4 linked regions of the Homo sapiens genome follow. The protein of the gene in region 1 purifies or fractionates together with the protein of each later gene. This does not show direct contact. Each region holds a gene or a part of one and is shown in the gene's direction. Other genes may lie near its edges.

Region 1 (4,828 bases):
ACAGAGGCAAGAAGTATATGGGAAACTGGAAGCAGTAACTGTGGCTAGACCCCAGAATGGGAAATGGAGGCCTGAGTGGCCAAAAGATGAGGTTTGGAAAGAATCACAGTCTCGTTGACAGAGGGCCTGTATATCATGTTAAGGGGTTTGGGTCATTATCTGAGGACAGTAGGAAGTTATTCAAAAGTTTGGAATAGGTGAGGTCCTGGTGTTTTAATCAGGTCCAGATTAACAGAAGAGATAATGGGCTATGTATTATATCAATCAGAGAGGTTTAACCATTTGACTCTGTCCTGAGAACCCTATTTGACATAATTCCAGCCATAGTCAGCTCTTCAGTACTCATAATAAGAAAGGGGGTTGTAAAGATCTGACATGAGAGATTCTTGTAAAGTCTTTCCTTAAAAGGAAATGAATCAGTTTAGCTGGGTTTATCTTAGACTCAGTGAGTAAAAAAAAATCCAGTTAATTTTAAAATTCCAATAATGTCTCCTAAGATAATTTTGTTTGCTTATGTTACCTTTATTTATTTAAGTTTTACTTTCTTAAAAAATTACGTTGCTTTTTTTCTAGAATCAGAATAAGAGAACTGTGTTTGAAAGACTCATTCTGGGTCAAACAAACCTTTTATTTTAGTTTCTGTTCTTGGTGTGAACTTCTTTGAAAGACTGACTCCCGTTAGGTTGTGGTGTCTGTCAGCGCTCAGGTGTGGCATTTAGTTCGCAGCTCTCCTCTTGGAAGTTGTGAACTTTTCTGGGGAAAAGGTAATAGTGTTATGCTAATAATTCCCCGGAATTGTCTTTGAGGATAATCCTACTCTTCTTCTGAAGGATTAATTCGATCTGTGGAACAAGTTTCCTATGGTGAATATATCTGATGTAGAACTCTTAATGTCTTGTATCAGGAGTAAGAACGTTATTTGGGGTGACATAGAAAATGTGGATCATGGGAGATACTACATAGAGATATTCAGGCAAAAGAAGAAAATAAGCTTCCTGGATTGGTGCAGGGAATACTTTTATAACTATCTTCCTTTCACATTCAATTCCTGTTTCTATGAAGGGTTAGGGGGAACCAAAATGAAGTTAAACAGTTACACAATAAAAAAGAAATGAGGGTCCGTGTGTGGTGGCTCACGCCTGTAATCTCAGCACTTTGGGAGGCTGAGGCAGGTGGATCATGAGGTCAGGAGTTCAAGACTAGCCTGGCCAAGATGGTGAAACCCTGTCTCTACTAAAAATACAAAAATTAGCCGGGTGTGGTGGCAGGCACCTGTAATCCCAGCCACTCGGGAGGCTGAGGCAGGAGAATTGCTTGAACCTGGGCGGCAGAGGTTGCAGTGAGCCGAGATTGTTCCACTGCACTTCAGCCTGGGCAACAGAGTGAGACTTCGTCTCAAAAAAAAAAAAAAAAAAAAAGGGGGGCCGGGGCAGTAGTTCACACGTGTAACTTTGGGAGACTAAAGCAAGAGGATGGCTTCTAGCCAGTAGTTTGAGACCAGCCTGAGCAACATAGCGAGACCCTGTCACTACAAAAAATTAAAATTTAAAATTAATTTAATTAAAAATTATCCTTCAAATTAAAAAAAAAATCATCTGAGGCCAGGCACAGTGGCTCACATTTGTAATCCCAGCAGTTTGAGAAGCCAAGGCGGGAGGATCACTTGATCCCAGGAATTCAAGAACAGCCTAGGCAACATAGTGAAACCCCTATCTCTACCAAAAATAGAAAAAATTAGCTAGATGTGGTGGTGTGTGCCTGTAGTCCCAGCTGCTCAGAAAGCTGAGGTGGGAGGATCACTCGAGCCCAGGAGTTTGAGGTTGCAGTGAGCCATGATTATATGACTGTACTCTAGCCCGCATGACACAGAGCGAGACCTCATCTCTTAAAAAAGAAAAAAAAATGAGTAAAACTAGACAATAAAACGCAAACCAATAGAATCATCACAAATAGCCAAGCAAAGACTTCTGTTTCATAAAAAACTGACAAAAAAAAAAGTTAGAATTTTCTCTTTCCTTTTTTTTTTTGTTTTGGGACAAGGTCTCACTCTGTCACCCAGGCTGGAGTACAGTGATGCAATCTTGGCTCACTGCTACCTCTGCCTCCCAGGGTCAAGTGATCCTCCCACCTCAGCCTCCCAAGTAGCTGGGATTACAGGTGTGGGCCACCTTGTCTGGCTAATTTTTGTATTTTTAGTAGAGATGGGGTTTTGCCATGTTGTCCAGGCTGGTCTCAAACTCCTGACCTCAAATGATCCCCCTGCCTTGGCCTCCCAAAGTGCTGGGATTATAGGCGTGAGCCACCATGCCCGGCCTCTCTTTCCTTTTCAGCTAAGCATTTTGAAAGGAGAATCATATTACATTTCTTCACTTCCCAAACATTCCCTAACTGGAAAGGTGATGGTACTGCCCTCACTGTTCCACTGAATATACCTTCATGGAGGGCATCCATGACTTCTTAATTGCCAAATCTAGTGAACATCCTAACATCTTTGATTCCTCATTCTACTGGGCTCCTTTATTTCTCTCAATAGTTTTTAGATTTCAGGGTTTGTTAAAACATATTGCTGTTTCCTACCTTCGGGGTGTCCAATTCAGTAACTCTAGAGCCTGCATTTCTGAAGTTCCCTGGTGATGCTGATGCTTCCAGTTGGGGACTACATTTTGACAACCATTGTTTTATCTAATAATAATGACTATTCTCTCCTTGAAATATACTGCTCTTTTTGATTCTGTAACAGTATATTCTCCTAGTTTTCCTACTAATTACTCATCTATGAAGAAAGTAATCAAAAGAGACCTAAAAAAGATAAATTTTGAAAAGCTTTTATATATGGAATGACTAATGCTTATAGAGGCCCACTGACTTTTAACTTAATTTAAATGTTCTTTTTTGCCCTAATGGTGCTGACCAACTTAACTTTTTAAAAAAATAACAAGCCAGGTGCGGTGGCTCACACCTGTAATCCCAGCACTTTGGGAGGCTGAGGTGGGTGGATTGCTTGAGCTCAGAAGTTCGAGACCAGCCTGGGCAACATGGCAAAACCCTGTCTCTACAAAAAATACAAAAATTAATCAGGCATGGTGGCATGCATCTGTAGTCCTAGCTACTCGGGAGGTTGAGGTGGGAGGACTGCTTGAGCCTGGGAGATTGAGGCTGCAGTGAGCCATGATCATGCTACTGCACTCCATCCTGGGTGACAGACTGGACCCTGTGTCATAAAATAAAATAAAATAAAATAAAAATAAATACTTTGTTGACATATAATTCATACACCATAAAATCTATCTTTTTAAAGGATAAAATTCAGTGTCTTTTTGTCTGTTTTTGTTTTGTTTTTTTTTGAGATGGAGTCTTGCTCTGTCGCCCAGGCTGCAGTGCAGTGGCATGATCTCAGCTTACTACAACCTCCACCTTCCCGGCTGACACGATTCTCCTATCTCAGCCTCCTGAGTAGCTGGGACTGCAGGCATGTGCCACCACACCTGGCTAATTTTTGTATTTTTAGCAGAGATGGGTTTTCGCCATGTTGGCCAGGCTGGTCTCAAAACTCCAGCGCTCAAACGATCTATCCACCTTAGCCTCCCAAAGTTCTGGGATAACAGGTGGGAGCCACTGCACCCTGCCATTTCAATAGTTTTTTTAAAATATACCCACAGAGTCGTGAAATCATCACCACTATCTAATTTTAGAATATTTTCATTGTTCCCCAAAAGAAACTGTGTGCCCATTAAGCTGTAACTCCTAATTGCGCCCCTTTCCCCAACCACAGCAAATCTACTTTTCATCTCTGTGGATTTGCCTGTTCTGGACATTGCATATATGTGGACTCATACAATAAGTGGTTTGTTGTGTCTGGTTTCTCTCATTTAGCATAATGTTTTACAGGTTCATTCATGTTGCAGCATGTGTCAGCATTTTATACTTTTTTATGGCCAAACAATATGCCATTGTATTGGTATACTATATTTTGTTTATCCGTTCATTAGTTGATGGACGTTTAGGTTTCTGGTTTTTTGGCGAGTATGAATATGCAGCTATGGATATTATGTTTAAGTTATTGTGTTAACATGTTTTCTGTTCTTTTAGTTATATATCTAGGAATGGAATTGTTGGGTCATGGTAACCCTATGTTTAACTTTCTGAGGAACTGCCAAACTGTTTTCTGAAGTGGCTACACCATTTTACAATTTAACCTTTTGAGTTTCTGCTTTGTGCTTTAATGATGCTTTTCTAAATTACATGGTTTTTCAGACACCTTGATTTTAGAGTTAAAGCTAATCTTTTTTTTTTTTTTTTTTTTTTGAGACGGAGTTTCACTCTTGTTGCCCAGGCTGGAGTGCAATGGCATGATCTTGGCGCACTGCAACCTCCGCCTCCTGGGTTCAAGCAATTCTCCTGCCTCAGCCTCCCGAGTAGCTGAGATTACAGGCATGGGCCACCACACCTGGCTAATTTTTGTGTTTTCAGTAAAGATGGGGTTTCACCATGTTGGCCGGGCTGGTCTCGAACTCCTGACCTCAAGTGATCTGCCCGCCTTGGTCTCCCAAAGTGCTGGGATTACAGGCGTGAGCCACCGCGCCTGGCCTTTTTTTTTTTTTTTTTTTTTTTGAGACAGAGTCTCGCTCTTGTCGTCCAGGCTGGAGTGCAGTGGTGCAATCTTGGCTCACTGCAACCTCTGCCTCCTGGGTTCAAGTGATTCTTCTGCCCCAGCCTCCCAGGTAGCTAGGATTGACAGGCGTGTGTCACCATGCCCAGCTAATTTTTGTATTTTTAGTAGAGACGGTATTTCGCCAGGTTGGCCAGGCTGGTCTCGAGCTCCTGACCT
Region 2 (4,671 bases), on another chromosome or scaffold:
AACTCTGCTTTGGGGTGCTGAAAGGCAGTGAAGCTATTGTAGTGGTTCCCCAAACTACGGGCCAACTACAAAAAGGAATGAAAAATGTCTTGAATGTATATGTACAACAATTCAAAACACATACAACCACTTTTTATTACAACATAAATCCATTAAAAATCATTACTGAATTCCCAATTTGTTATGTATTTTCTAAATCAGCAAATACCAAGGGTGTAACTACTATAGTGAGCTAGTCCAACAAATTTTTTGGTGTTAAAAAAGGAGTGCTGTATGTCAAAAAGGTTGGTGGGTTTTGGAGTTAGACAAACCTTGATCTTAAACTCTGTCACTATTAATTAGTTGTGTGGGACTGGGCAACTCTGAGTTTGGTCCTTCATCTCTAGAGCGGTGGTTATAAAACCAACCTTGCGTTTTTTGACAATTAGAGAAATATATGGCATGTTTTAGATGCTCAGCAAGTGGGAAGTATCACAAAACGAAAAGCTGAGGTCAAATCAGAGTCCACCTTGAACACCAAGCTAAGGAACTGGTACTTTTTCTTTGAGCACATAGTTACAGAAGGTTTTGTCTGAGTGACAGGAAAATCAATAAGTAAGTTAGAAGGTGATTGCGTTGGTCTAGGTGAGGCATTATGAGGCACTGGCATTGAATTTCTGGGATATTTCAGAGTATTGACTATAGGACTCCACATCTACTTGTATATGAGGAATGTGAGATTAAAAAAAAGGTCGCTAGTTTGATCTAACTGTGCTGTTAACAACAATAAAAAGTCAACAGAGATGTAAAGGTCAGTTTTGGACATTTTGAGTTTAAACTCCTACAATTATCGTGGCTGAAAAAGCAGCAAACATGATGTCTGTTGAAAACAAGGCTTTAGGAATTTTGCTCATTCTTTAAAAACCTACGAATTTTAAAAATCAAACTTTAAAAAACTTTTTGTTTTTTTTTTTAAAAAAACGGCAGCGTAATACAATATTTGGACACGCTATACTATGGGCTTTGAAGAACGCCTGTCCAGAACACCCAACAAGCTCCATTATGTCAAACGCTCCCGCGCCTCTGTGATGTCACCACGACGCGCTGGGCGCTCTGCGACTTGGCAGACGTCGTGCGTCATTACCAACGAGGCGCAGGGGTCAGGACGACTCTCGGCAGCGCCATTGCGCGCCCTCTAGTGGCAGCCGGTTTTGAGGCCGGCCTCCGGCTTTGAAGTTCCTCACCGCGTCTCCTTCCCTCTCCCCAAAGCCTGGATCACCGCCCAGCGTCAGGCGAGGGGCGACGTCTCGAGGTAAAACGGAGGAGGTGCGGGACGCGGAGACTGCGCGGGCCCGGTAGCCCTGGAGAGGCCGAGGCTCTAGGCCGCGAGGGGCGGGTGCAATGGCGGAGGAACAGGTGAACCGCAGCGCCGGCCTGGCCCCCGACTGTGAGGCCTCGGCGACTGCAGAAACTACGGTTTCCTCAGTGGGGACCTGTGAAGCCGCTGGCAAGTCACCAGAGCCCAAGGACTACGACAGCACCTGCGTGTTCTGCCGGATCGCGGGGCGGCAGGACCCGGGCACCGAACTCCTGCACTGCGAGGTGGGCGGCGACGCGCGGCCGGGGGTGGGTGAGGACCTGGCCGCCCCTCGGAGCTCCGGCAGGGAGGCCTCGCCGTTGTGGAGCGGGTGCAGAGGATCCCGATCGCTACTCAGCTCGCAGAGGCAGGGCCGCTCTGTGTGGATGGGGCTCGGGGAAGCTGGGGATACGCCCACTACGGGCCTTTCTGCAGGGTCCGGGTGCTGATGACAGACTCACTCCTAGGGGACTGACAGGCAGTGGCTCCAGCGGTATCTTTGCTGTTCCCAGGGGCAAAGAGTGAATGACAGGGCCGAATGCTTTGGCCTATGTTTGCAGGTACCCAGGTAGTTGGTACAAATAACATTTTGTGGCCTCTGCTTTTATTACAAGGATTCTTCTCCACCTTCAAGATACTGATTTTAAATCCTGCACACTCTAATACCGATACTGATGAGAAAACTAGTAGAAAATAGGTAATGATAATTGTGGAAAGCTGTTTGTTAGATTGGCAGAAAATAGGCTGGAGGGAGTGGGTCTGAGGTCAAACTATTATTGAATTGCCTCTGAATTCCACTGTCAGTTGGGATGCGTGGACATTTTCAGAGCATGAAGACTTTGCCCAGATATTTTTAAACGGATAATCTGGCACACACTTTATTCTGTTGGTTTTACTTGTCCATATAGAAACAACTTTTTGAGAGAATTAGCTCCAAAGATTGTGTCTTTTGTAGTAAACATTCCTTTATTTTTTAAAAAATAAATATAATTCCTTCTAAGCACCTTGTTTTGGAGGTTTTTGAGCAAGATAAGGGACAGTCTGTGTCCCGATTTTACAATCTAAAGGGCGGAATGTATACAGAGGAGGTAGCCAGTTACAATGCCTCGTGCTGTGGTCAGGTGATTTTACAGTATTTTGTAAGCTTGTGGGAGGAGCATCTAACCCAGCTCTGAAGAATTAGGGAAGGCTTTCCAGAGGAAATGAGACATGAAGAAATAAGTAGGAGTTGATCAGATGAGGAAATGGAGAGAATAATGTCCCAGGTTGAGAGACCCCCCGAGAGGTTCAGTTTGTGTGATAGAAAAACTAACAGAAATTGTCTAACTAGTGCATAGAGTTTGAGAGGATGAAAGGCGAGGCTGGAGAGGTAAACAAGGGACCAGATTATTAAGTGTGTTGGAAGTCATGTGAAGGAATTTGTCTTTATCTGAAGAGCAAAGTGAAACTTCACAATGTTTAATGGTGGGTTGGGAGGAAGATGTTGCGGAGTTATAGGAAGGGGGTTGATCTTTGAAAGGTCATTCTGGCATCATTGTGGAGAATGATTTGGAGGAGACCAGTCTGGAGGTATGGAGACCCGTTAGAAGGCTAGTAGATTAATCTACCCTGATGATGGCCTGAAATGAGAATGTGGTAGAGGAGATTATGAAAAGTATATCAATTTAAGGGATACAGTATTCAGGAGGTAAAACAGGGAGGACTTGATGGATACAGGTCAGTGATTCTCAACTGGGGGCAATTTTGCCCTCCCAGGGTACATTTTGCAATGTATTGAGATACTTTTGATTGTAACAACTTCTGGCACTTCTAGGGGTTGCTTCTGGGACCTAAATAATGGATAAAAGCCAGGGTTGCTATTAACATGGTACAGTGCACAGGACAGCACCCCCACCACCCCATCAACACACACACATAAAACAGGCTTATCCAGCCCTCAAAATGTCAGAAGTGCCAAGGTTTAGAAACCCTGATTTAGATATAAGAGGATAAGGAAATGAAAGAGGGTGAAGTCAAAGATGATTTCCAGGTTTCTGGCTAGGGTAAACTAGTAGTGGTGGTACCATTTCATTAAGCTCGGGAACACAGGAGGAGAAAAGATGGCCAGGGGAGTGGTGGGAGGTAGCAAAGCGATGAGTTGAGCTATGGAGTTGTGGAGTTTGAGGTGAGTTTGAGGCATCTAAGTAGAGATGTCTTTTAAATGGTTGGATAGTCTAGCACTCTGTAGAGGGATCTGTATCTCTAACCCAGATTACAGGAACTGTCGGTTTATAGATGGAAACTGAAAAAGAAGGGAAGCGATGAGATCACCCATGAGGTAAAAAGTGAAGGGGAGGCCTACACAGAACTCTGAAGAACACTAACATCATAAGGGACAGACAGAGGAAGAGGACCTGGAAAGGGAATAGAGAAGGAACAGAGAAATAGAAGGAACGCTGGAAAGGCTAAGAGAAGGGAGTATGTCAAAAAGAAAGGAATTGCCAGCAATGTCAGCAGCAATATTAGCCTGCCTTCATCCTCAAATCTGGGTTAGATGACCCTTGTATGTCCTTGCAGAGTCAGAGCAGGACTGGTTGTGTCCCCAAAGTGATGTTCATTGACCTTGAGGAGAGCAATTTCATGAAGTGGTGAAGCAAAAGGCAGATAGCAGTTGATTGAGAAGAACTTGGGAAAGGAAGGAGTGAAGACAGCAAATACAGACAACTCTCACAGGAATTTGGCAATCCAGGGGAGGAGGGAAAGGTAGTGGTAGCTACAGGAGAAGTTGGGGATTAAGAGAAAGCTTTTAAAACAGTGAAACCTTTTGTGTGTTCAAATCCCAGTGGGAAGATGCCTATAGAGAGAGGTTTAAAATGGCCCGGCGGGTAGAATGTTGACCCTGGGAAAGAGGAAACTCATTCCTCACTCTCTGTGTGCCAGGCACTGTTGGAGGCATGGGGATACAGCCGTAAACAAAACATGCAAAACTCCTTGCCCTTGTGGAGCTCACATTGTCGTTGCAGAAAAGGATAATAAGCAAAACAATAAGTAAAATTTATAGTTTATTAGATGGCAGAAAATAAAGAGGAAGGGGATGCAGTTTTAAAATTTTAGTCAGGAAAATCTGCACTAAGCAGGTGACATTTGGGTTAAGCCTTGAAAAAGGAGAAGGAGCAATTATATGGTTATATGGTTATTTACAAGTAAAAGGTTTGAAGTAGCTCCTGTGAAGGCTAGGAGAGAGAATTAGGGAAACAAGGATTGTTGTACAGCGGGTCACGTGAGGTTGAGGACATTCAATTTCAGGTCATACCAGTCTGCTTAGTTGTGTGATTTTCTTCCCACTTTCCAGCAGC
Region 3 (4,228 bases), on another chromosome or scaffold:
GTGCGATCAGCTCCTGAGCCTTTTTAGGAATCTGTGCATATTGTAACCTACTGCCTAAGTTTCAGCTTTCTAGTTAGGAACTCTCAAAATTTTGTTGTGTTTTGTCTACTTTCCTGGTATCTCTGGGTTTGTCTTTATATGAAGTTAATTTAATTTCAGTGGAATTTCGACAGAAAGTGAAATTAAGATGCATGTGTTCAATTCACCAGCTGAACCTGCAACATCCACTGTCTTTTGTATTATTTGTATCATCTTCAAAACCGTCTTTTTAAATGACTATAATAGTCAATTAAATGAAAGTTCCCTACTTCAGTTAGCTAGAACCGTAGTTTAAAATGCAGGTTGTTCTAATTATTTTTTCACATTGCTTTTCCTTCATTCAATTATTTATTTCCTAAGGCTAGATTCTTGGAATGTAAGTACTAGGCTAAATGGGTAAGAACATCTTAGGGCTCTTGAAAAATATTGCCAGATTTTGCTTTCTCAGACGTTTAAACCATTTTGCAGTGCCTCTCCCAACTCTGCTTTAAGTAAAATATTTATCTTTCTTACACTTACCTGGTTTTAAGTATAAAAATTTCTCTTATTGGAAATAGTTCTCTTGTGCTTAAGATTAAATATATGTTGCAGTTTTTGCTTCGGTCTGTGATCTCTTTAGTCTGTTCTCAGGGAATGACATTTATTGACTTTTCTCATGTCTTGGTCATTCATCTACAATTTAATTTTAACATAGGAAAGGAGCAAAGGCATGGCTAACATTTACTTTGAGTTTTAACACCATTTCCCTGGTGATACTTTTATCCAGTCTAGAAGTTTGAGGATTTTTTTGAAGTTTCTTCTGACTCTCTTGAATTTATGTTTAGTCTTGGGCAGATTTGCCTGTCCTTTTAAGAATGCTTTTTTGTTGTTGTTGTTAAGACAGGGTCTCACTCTGTTGCTCAGGTACAAGTGCAGTGGCGCAGTCATGGCTCATTGTAGCCTTGACCTCCCAGGTGATCCTCCCACCTCAGCCTCCTGAGCAGCTGGGACCACAGGCACAAGGCACCATGCCCAGCTAATTTTTGTAACTTTTGTAGAGACACGGTTCCACTATGTTGCCTCAGCTGGTTTCGAACTCCTGTGCTGAAACAATCCTCCCAACTTGGCCTCCCAAAGTGCTGTGATTATAGGCATGAGCCACTGCGCCTGGCCAAGAATGCTTATTTTTTAATGTGACTGAATACTTTTTCTTTGTGACTTTGTTTTTAATACCCATCTAGAATGAAATGTTTTCAGAGAGAGAATAGTTGTCTACAGATATGCTACACATGGATTAAATTTCCCCTCTTTCATTGATTGTTGTTTTAGGTGGTGCTTCCTACATTTATCCTAGAGAAGCGTTCCTTGCTGGAAATGTATGCAGACTTTATGTCTCATCCAGACCTATTTATAGCCATCACTAATGGAGCCACAGCTGAGGACAGAATGATTCGCTTTGTTGAGTACTACCTTACCTCATTTCATGAAGGCCGTAAGGGAGCCATTGCTAAAAAACCATACAATCCTATCATTGGAGAAACATTTCACTGTTCCTGGAAGATGCCAAAAAGCGAGGTAGCATCCAGTGTTTTTAGCAGTTCTTCCACCCAGGGAGTCACAAATCATGCTCCTTTATCGGGGGAGTCTTTGACCCAGGTGGGATCAGACTGTTACACAGTCAGATTTGTTGCTGAGCAGGTTTCTCATCATCCTCCAGTCTCAGGATTTTATGCAGAATGTACAGAGAGGAAGATGTGTGTAAATGCGCATGTCTGGACTAAGAGCAAGTTCTTAGGCATGTCAATAGGCGTGACAATGGTTGGAGAAGGTAAGTAGAAAAATTATTTTATATATATATATATATATACACACACACATATATATATGTATTTTTTTTTCCAAGCAGGAATGAAAGTTTACTTTAAAAGGCTTTAGAACAGGAAAGAAAGGAAAGTTCGCTTGGGAGAAACCCAAGCAGGCACGTGAAGGTCAAGTGCCTGTTTTATAATTTTTAATATCAAACTACAATCTTAAATTTAGGAACCCCAGATAAATATTAACTCTAAGTTTAAAATATTATGTTACTTTTTCGCTCCAATTTCTAGAGTGTTCCAGAATGCTTCTTGTGGGGATGGGAGGAGTATATCTATGAACTAATGTAAATTCTCTTTTTAAATTATTTTTTTCTGATTTTAAATATTTCTTTTCGTTTGTTTTCTTTTCTTTTTTTTGAGATGGAGTCTCGCTCTGTCATCCAGGCTGGAGTGCAATGGTGCTATCTCCGCTCACTGCAAACTCCGCCTCCCAGGTTCAAGCGATTCTCCTGCCTCAGACTCACGAGTAGCTGGGATTATGGCGCCTGCCACCATGCCACCACACCCAGCTAATTTTTATATTGTTAGTAGAGATGGGGGGTTTCACCATGTTGGTTAGGCTGGTCTCAAACTCCTGACCTCTGATGATCCACCCACCTCGGCCTCCCAAAGTGATGGGATTACAGGCATGAGCCACCGTGCCTGGCGATTTTAAATATTTCTTATCAAATATTTGGAAAACTAGAAAAGTACAAAGCAGAAAATAAAAGCTTCTGTAATGCCTGCATCCATATATATATAAATTTAATATTTTATACTTTTTCTGTGTGTGTATGTTCATACTTTTAGCCTTATAAAATTAGAATTAATAATATATATAGTTTTGAGTCCTGCTTTTTAAATTAAATATATTCATTTTATCATGTCATTGATAAAACATATTTTAATGACTGCATAATATTCTATGAAATAGATTTTCCATCCTTTTTTTTAATTTAATTTAATTTAATTTTTTTTTTTTTTTTTTTTTAGAAACAGGGTCTTGCTCTGTTGCCCAGGCTGAAGTGCAGTGGCATGGTCATAACTAACTGCAGCCTTGACCTACTCGGCTCAAGCCATCCTCCTGCCTCAGCCTCCCAAGTAGCTAGGACTACAGGCATGCACCACCATGCTAGGCTAATTTTTTTAATTTTTATTTTTAGAGACAGGGTCTCAATATGTTGCCCAGGCTGGTCATGAACTCCTGGGCTCAAGTGATCCTTTGGCCTCCACCTCCAGGCATTAGCCTGTAATCTCAGCACTTTAGGAGATGGAGGCCAGAGGTGCTATTCATAGAATATTTAGGTGCTATTCATAGAATATTTAAAAATATATGCTGATAAAAGTTAATTCTACTTCATCAGAAGATTATGAAAAAATTATTTTTGGAAATGCAGAGTTTTTTGACCAAGAATATGAAACAAAAACAAAAATCTCCACAGAAATTATTGAAGAGTTAATGAAAATATAATGATAGGAAAAAAATACCACTTTTATGTTAAAGGAAAACTCTTATGCAAAGAACACTATGCTCTGAATGTCATCTTACAGTGTAAGCATGGCATCATTAAGCCAATCTAATATTTTGAGATTGTGTTATAGTCGTTATGAAGAAAGTATCCTCTTTTTCAGTTTTCCTCATTTTTAAGTTCTGTTGTAATATGTCTTACCAATTTCCAAATAATATTTCAAGTTAATTACAACTTTTATAACATTAGAAAGTACTCTCTTTTTTTTTTTTTGTTTGTTGTGTGTGTGTGTGTGTGTGTGTGTGTGTGTGTGTGACACGGTCTAGCTGTGTCGCCCAGGTTGAAGTGCAGTGGGGCCATCTTGGCTCACTGCAATCTCTGCCTCCCAGGCTCAGGCCATCCTCCCACCCCAGCTTCCACAGTAGCTGGGATTACAGGCGTGCGCCACCATGCCCAACCAATTTTTGTATTTTTTGTAAAGATGAGATTTTTGCCATGTTGCCCAAGCTGGTCTCAAACTTGTGAGCTCAAGTGATCCACCCACCCCAGCTTCCCAAAGTTCTGGGATTACAGTTGTGAGCTACTACACCCAGCTGAAATCATTCATATTTTATTAGTTAAAAACAAAAAGTTTGCTACCCTCCATCATAAGCTCCGTCACGTTAGCCTTAAGCACTTCATAGATCAACTTGCTTATTTTATAAGTGAAAAAAAACTGAAGTCTAGAGATGATGAGACATGTCTAAGGTCATAAATGTTAAGGAATAGACACATTTAGAACCATATTCTTTGACACTCTCCCAAAGGACAGTTAATCTTATCAGTTCATGTAACAGTAAGAATCTGGAAATGGTAGCCTCTCACACTGCAAGAAAGGAAGTACTTCAA
Region 4 (4,850 bases), about 49 Mb from region 1:
TCTGAGGCTAACTGAGGGGAAGGGATGGGAAGGCAGATTAAGAAGTGTTAGCAACCTGTTAACACCCTTGACATATTCAGAGGCTTGAAAGAAAATGGGAAGAATAACTTTCTCTTTCGGTGTAATTTAATGCTGTCTCTGTTCTCCCTAAAATCACCTGCATTTTACTGCAACCACCCATTTATCACTCAACGGCGCTAGATGCTGCCAGTAAACCAATGGACCAGATAAGCACAGCCTCTGCCCCTACAGACTCTCAGTCGGCTGGAGGAAAAACATAAGCAACCTGGGAATGGCTATAAAATGTCATTGCTTAAGAAAATAGTTTGTGGCCGGGCGTGGTGGCTCACGCCTGTAATAGCAACATTTTGGGAGGCCGATGCGGGCGGATCACCTGAGGTCAAGAGTTCGAGACCAGCCTGGTCAAAAGATGAGTTCGAGACTAGACTGGCCACCTCTTCAGTAGAGCTGGTGAAGCCCCGTTTCTACTAAAAATACAAAAATTAACCGGACGTGGTGGCATGCGCCTGTAGTCCCAGCTACTCCTGAGGCTGAGGCACCAGAATCGCTTGAACCTGCCTGGGAGGGGGAGGTTGCAGTGAGCCAAGATCACGCCACTGCACTTCCGCCTGGGCGACAGAGCGACACTCAGTCTCAAAAAAACTAGTTTGTGTTTTGGAGCCTCTCACTTCTCCAGCGTCCCCGATACGCCCGGGGATTGCAGAGAACCCACACCTATTCGTAGATTATGAGAGTAGGAGCAAATTAATGATTTATAGTCTTTTCAAATTTTTTTTTTTAACAGAAAAAGAGTAGGGAGTTGAAAGTAATGCTGTTTTTTTCCAGGCACTCCCGGGGACCCAGCGCGGCGAAGCCCGCCAGGATCGCGGGCGACCTGTGGCAGCTCTGGTTCCCCCGCCCGGGCCCGGCTCGGGTTACGCTCTGGGCGGGGACTCCGCAGCGGCTCCCTAGTTAGGGGGCGCCCCGGTGGGTTCCAGCTTTAGGGGTCGCAGGAGCGGCTCTGGCATCACCTCGGAGCTGACGAAGCGGGAAGAGCCCCGCACCAGTGCTGCCCCTACAGAGCTCTCGGCGGGGGGTGGAGGTGAGGTTACACCTCGTCCCTACCCCCGCCTTCCCCTCCGCCGCAGGGATCCGGGACCCGCCCCCGCGGAGAGGACGGGGGGCTGCGGGGAGGGGCTGTGCGGGGAGCGGGCGGGTTCCGCAGGCCCCTAGGTGGGGCGGGGCCCGAGCCAGAGTCGAGTCCCTGAGGCGGGTGGGGGAAGGAGAGACGGGTGGCGCGACCCTCTGTCCCCGCCTCGGGGCGGAGCCCAGGTCCCAGCCTGCGGAGCGCGAGACACGCCGAAATCCGCCCGAGGCTACCTGTGCGACTCCAGCCGCCCTGCACCGGAATCTGGGGAGACCCGCCCCCCGCCCCACCGGTCTGCGGCCCTCCGCCCCAGCGCAGGTGCAGGTGCGGCTTCTCTGCCCCTTTCACCCCAGGCGCATCCGCCGCGGCGGCCATGGCGCGAGGAGACGCCCCGCGGGACAGGTGAGTGGGCCCGGGTGCGTTGCAAGTGGCCGGGGGCGTTGCAGACCCGCTCCCTGAAGGCGCTCCGAGGCTCAGAGAAGACCGGATCGAACTACAATTCCCATCAGCCGACTCCCTCGGCCGCCGGAACCGGGGTGATCGGGGTTGTAGTCCGCTCCGGAGGGGGTGGCCTGGGAGGCGGGAGGGCCTGCGGAGGCGGGTGCGTCCTCGGGGTGACCTTCCCACCGATCCCCACAGCTACCACCTGGTCGGGATCAGCTTCTTCATCCTGGGGCTGGGCACCCTCCTTCCCTGGAACTTCTTCATCACCGCCATCCCGGTGAGACTCCTGGCGGCGTGGCAGCCTCGTGGCCACAGCCAGCACCCCTCCCTCCAGCCCTTTGGATGAAGCTTAGCGGGCGCTTCCTCACCGCGCACCTGTGACCCCTCGTTGAGCTCATTATGGGCTGAAGCTCGGAGAGGGGAATGCTTCCCCCGTGGCTAGGAAAGTAGAACTTCAGCAATGCCCACATCTCAGAGGGGCAAGGCCACCAGCCCACAGGGTCTGGAATGAGCAAAGGCGCTGCCACCCCTCTCTGTGTGTCGTTATTCCTGAGTCAGTCACCCCAAAAGTCGGTTATCGAACGTTTGATTTTCTTTGAAATACCATGAATTTCATTCATTCACTCATTCATTCAACAAACTTTTTTTTTTTTTTTTTTTTTGAGACAGAGTCTGGCTCTTTCGCCCAGGCTGGAGTGCAGTGGCGCCATCTCGGCTCACTGCAAGCTCCGCCTCCCGGGTTCACGCCATTCTCCTGCCTCACCCTCCCGAGTAGCTGGGACTACAGGCGCCCGCCGCCACGCGCGGCTATTTTTTTTTGTATTTTTAGTAGAGACGGGGTTTCACCGTGTTAGCCAGGATGGTCTCGATCTCCTGACCTCGTGATCCTCCCGCCTCGGCCTCCCAAAGTGCTGGGATTACAGGCGTGAGCCACCGTGCCCAGCCTCATTCAACAAACTTTTAATGTGCATCTACTGTGGAGCAGGCACTGGGGACACAGGAGGAAACAGCAGGGAGGCTCTTCAGGGAAGGCAGAAATGTGGGGTTTGCATTGTCTTTGGGACCGGGTTATTCATCTGTATTCACTGCAACAACTTTGCAAATGCTTCTTGGGTACTGGCTCTGTGCTGGGCCCTGGAAACCCAGAGATGAATCAGCCCCTGGGCTTGAGAGCAAGAGGGGGCCAAAGAGCTATTAATAATGTAACATGATGCGTGACATTCCAGGCTTGCAGCAGAGTGCAGTGGGTCCCCAGGGGAGGGAGAAAGTTCCTTCTGCTTCATGGAAGAGGAGATTTGTAAATTGGGAGTAGGGTAGGCAAAGTGCATGTGGAGGGGTGTGGTCAGTAGGGCATTCCAGGCCGAGGCGACAGCCATGCCAAAGGCAGGCAGGCAAGAGACGATCAGCCTGTTTAGAGGGAGATCCACAGCCAGGGCTGCCTGGAGCTTAGCAGGATGGAGCAGAAGATGGGGCACAAAGGGAGACTAGGATCTGATTCTGAAGAGCTGTTCCATTTGGGGCTTTGCCCTGCAGGCAATAGGGAGGCATGAATCGGGGTGTTGAGGAGTGAGGAGGTTAAGCAGAGGAGTGGCAGGCTATGTGCTCTAGAGAGAATGCAGTTGTTCAGCACCTAGGCCAAAGCCTGGCTGACAGTAGGCGCTCAATAAATACCCGTGGAATGAATGAATGTAGCAGCTGCTGCAGGAGTGGGGATGGGGGCTGGAACCAGGGCACTGAAGAGGAGGGGCCGTCCAAGGCTGGATCGAGGCTCTTGCTGGGGGCTCTTAATGCTTAGGCTGTGTCCCAGACTTCAGCCATTTAACTCAGCACACATTCATGGAGCTCCGACTGTGTGCCGGCTGCTGGGAACAGAACAAGGACAAGGCAGACAAGTCCCCACAGACATTAGAAAGCAATCACAAGTGAGGGGGAAGGCAGCGGGGGAAGGCTGAGAGGTGCTGACCCTCCACCACCTCCCCACCTGGCAGTACTTCCAGGCGCGACTGGCCGGGGCCGGCAACAGCACAGCCAGGATCCTGAGCACCAACCACACGGGTCCCGAGGATGCCTTCAACTTCAACAATTGGGTGACGCTGCTGTCCCAGCTGCCCCTGCTGCTCTTCACCCTCCTCAACTCCTTCCTGTACCAGTGGTGAGAGGCCTGCCCTGGCTCCTGCGCCCTCTGCCGAGGCAGCTTCATTGAGGCCCTCCCCTGCGCCCCCTGCCCCCCAGCCCTACTGCCCAGCCCCAGGTGTCGAGCCTCCTTCCCCAGCCCCCTCTGGCCTGGGCCCCACTGATGCACTCTGCCTGCTTCTGAGCAGCGTCCCGGAGACGGTGCGCATTCTGGGCAGCCTGCTGGCCATACTGCTGCTCTTTGCCCTGACAGCAGCGCTGGTCAAGGTGGACATGAGCCCCGGACCCTTCTTCTCCATCACCATGGCCTCCGTCTGCTTCATCAACTGTGAGCACCTCCACCCCCTCTCCAGCCAGCCTATGCAGGGCTTCAGCCTGGCCTCATCATTGAAAGGGCCCAGCATATCCGAGAAGGGCAGACAGCATCATGGTCGCTCATATCCCTGGTGAAGAAACTGAGGCCCACAGGGAGGGGAAGAGTCACTTGTCCGGTGACCTAGGAGCAGGCCTCCTGGTCAACAGCCCCACAGACCAATGGCTGCACCTCAGAAGAGGACTGAATAGCGGGTGTTGCCCCCGAGTGCTCAGAGTCCCTAGGGAAGCTCACACCTGCGCAACCTTGTCCAGAGTCCCCTGTGTATCCTGCCGGCACCTCCTCCAGGGAGCCTCTGAGTCTTGCCTAGTTGAGCAGCAGCCCCCATCCCTGTCCTCCACAGCCTTCAGTGCAGTCCTACAGGGCAGCCTCTTCGGGCAGCTGGGCACCATGCCCTCCACCTACAGCACCCTCTTCCTCAGCGGCCAGGGCCTGGCTGGGATCTTTGCTGCCCTTGCCATGCTCCTGTCCATGGCCAGTGAGTGCACTTGGGTGGCTGGAGGGCTGGGGTGGCCTCTGAGGTTTGGGGAAGAGAGAGGGCATGTGAGAGCAAGACACATGGGTTCTGGGTGAAGATGGAGGTAAGCAGGTGATATGGAAATGGGGATTGGGTCTGGGGCTAGGGAGTGGGGCTCATGGGCCCTGCAGTGAGGAGTAATAACCAAGTGAGGACTGGGTTAACTCAGGGACAGGGGCAGGATTCCTGGGGCTAATACTGGCATGTGGCAGCAGGTTGAAGTTGAAGGATAAGGG

The links. The genes of interacting proteins can lie anywhere in the genome.
Region 2: the proteins of NUCB2 (region 1) and HINT3 purify together in Homo sapiens (co-immunoprecipitation; one large-scale study listed by IntAct). This does not show direct contact.
Region 3: the proteins of NUCB2 (region 1) and OSBPL11 purify together in Homo sapiens (co-immunoprecipitation; one large-scale study listed by IntAct). This does not show direct contact.
Region 4: the proteins of NUCB2 (region 1) and SLC29A2 fractionate together in Homo sapiens (co-fractionation; one large-scale study listed by BioGRID). This does not show direct contact.

Annotation. Positions count from the first base shown.
Region 1 is NC_000011.10:17,296,685-17,301,512, forward strand, and holds part of NUCB2 (nucleobindin-2 isoform 1 preproprotein), read left to right. Parts: intron 1-4,828. UniProt on the Homo sapiens protein: Calcium-binding protein which may have a role in calcium homeostasis. Acts as a non-receptor guanine nucleotide exchange factor which binds to and activates guanine nucleotide-binding protein (G-protein) alpha subunit GNAI3.
Region 2 is NC_000006.12:125,955,598-125,960,268, forward strand, and holds the start of HINT3 (adenosine 5'-monophosphoramidase HINT3), read left to right. Parts: upstream 1-1,172; 5' UTR 1,173-1,380; coding exon 1,381-1,581; intron 1,582-4,671. UniProt on the Homo sapiens protein: Exhibits adenosine 5'-monophosphoramidase activity, hydrolyzing purine nucleotide phosphoramidates with a single phosphate group such as adenosine 5'monophosphoramidate (AMP-NH2) to yield AMP and NH2.
Region 3 is NC_000003.12:125,549,799-125,554,026, reverse strand, and holds part of OSBPL11 (oxysterol-binding protein-related protein 11), read left to right. Parts: intron 1-1,347; coding exon 1,348-1,846; intron 1,847-4,228. UniProt on the Homo sapiens protein: Plays a role in regulating ADIPOQ and FABP4 levels in differentiating adipocytes and is also involved in regulation of adipocyte triglyceride storage. Weakly binds 25-hydroxycholesterol. Interacts with OSBPL9 to function as lipid transfer proteins.
Region 4 is NC_000011.10:66,368,262-66,373,111, reverse strand, and holds the start of SLC29A2 (equilibrative nucleoside transporter 2), read left to right. Parts: upstream 1-1,351; 5' UTR 1,352-1,520; coding exon 1,521-1,549; intron 1,550-1,786; coding exon 1,787-1,868; intron 1,869-3,579; coding exon 3,580-3,743; intron 3,744-3,912; coding exon 3,913-4,052; intron 4,053-4,440; coding exon 4,441-4,575; intron 4,576-4,850. UniProt on the Homo sapiens protein: Bidirectional uniporter involved in the facilitative transport of nucleosides and nucleobases, and contributes to maintaining their cellular homeostasis. Functions as a Na(+)-independent, passive transporter.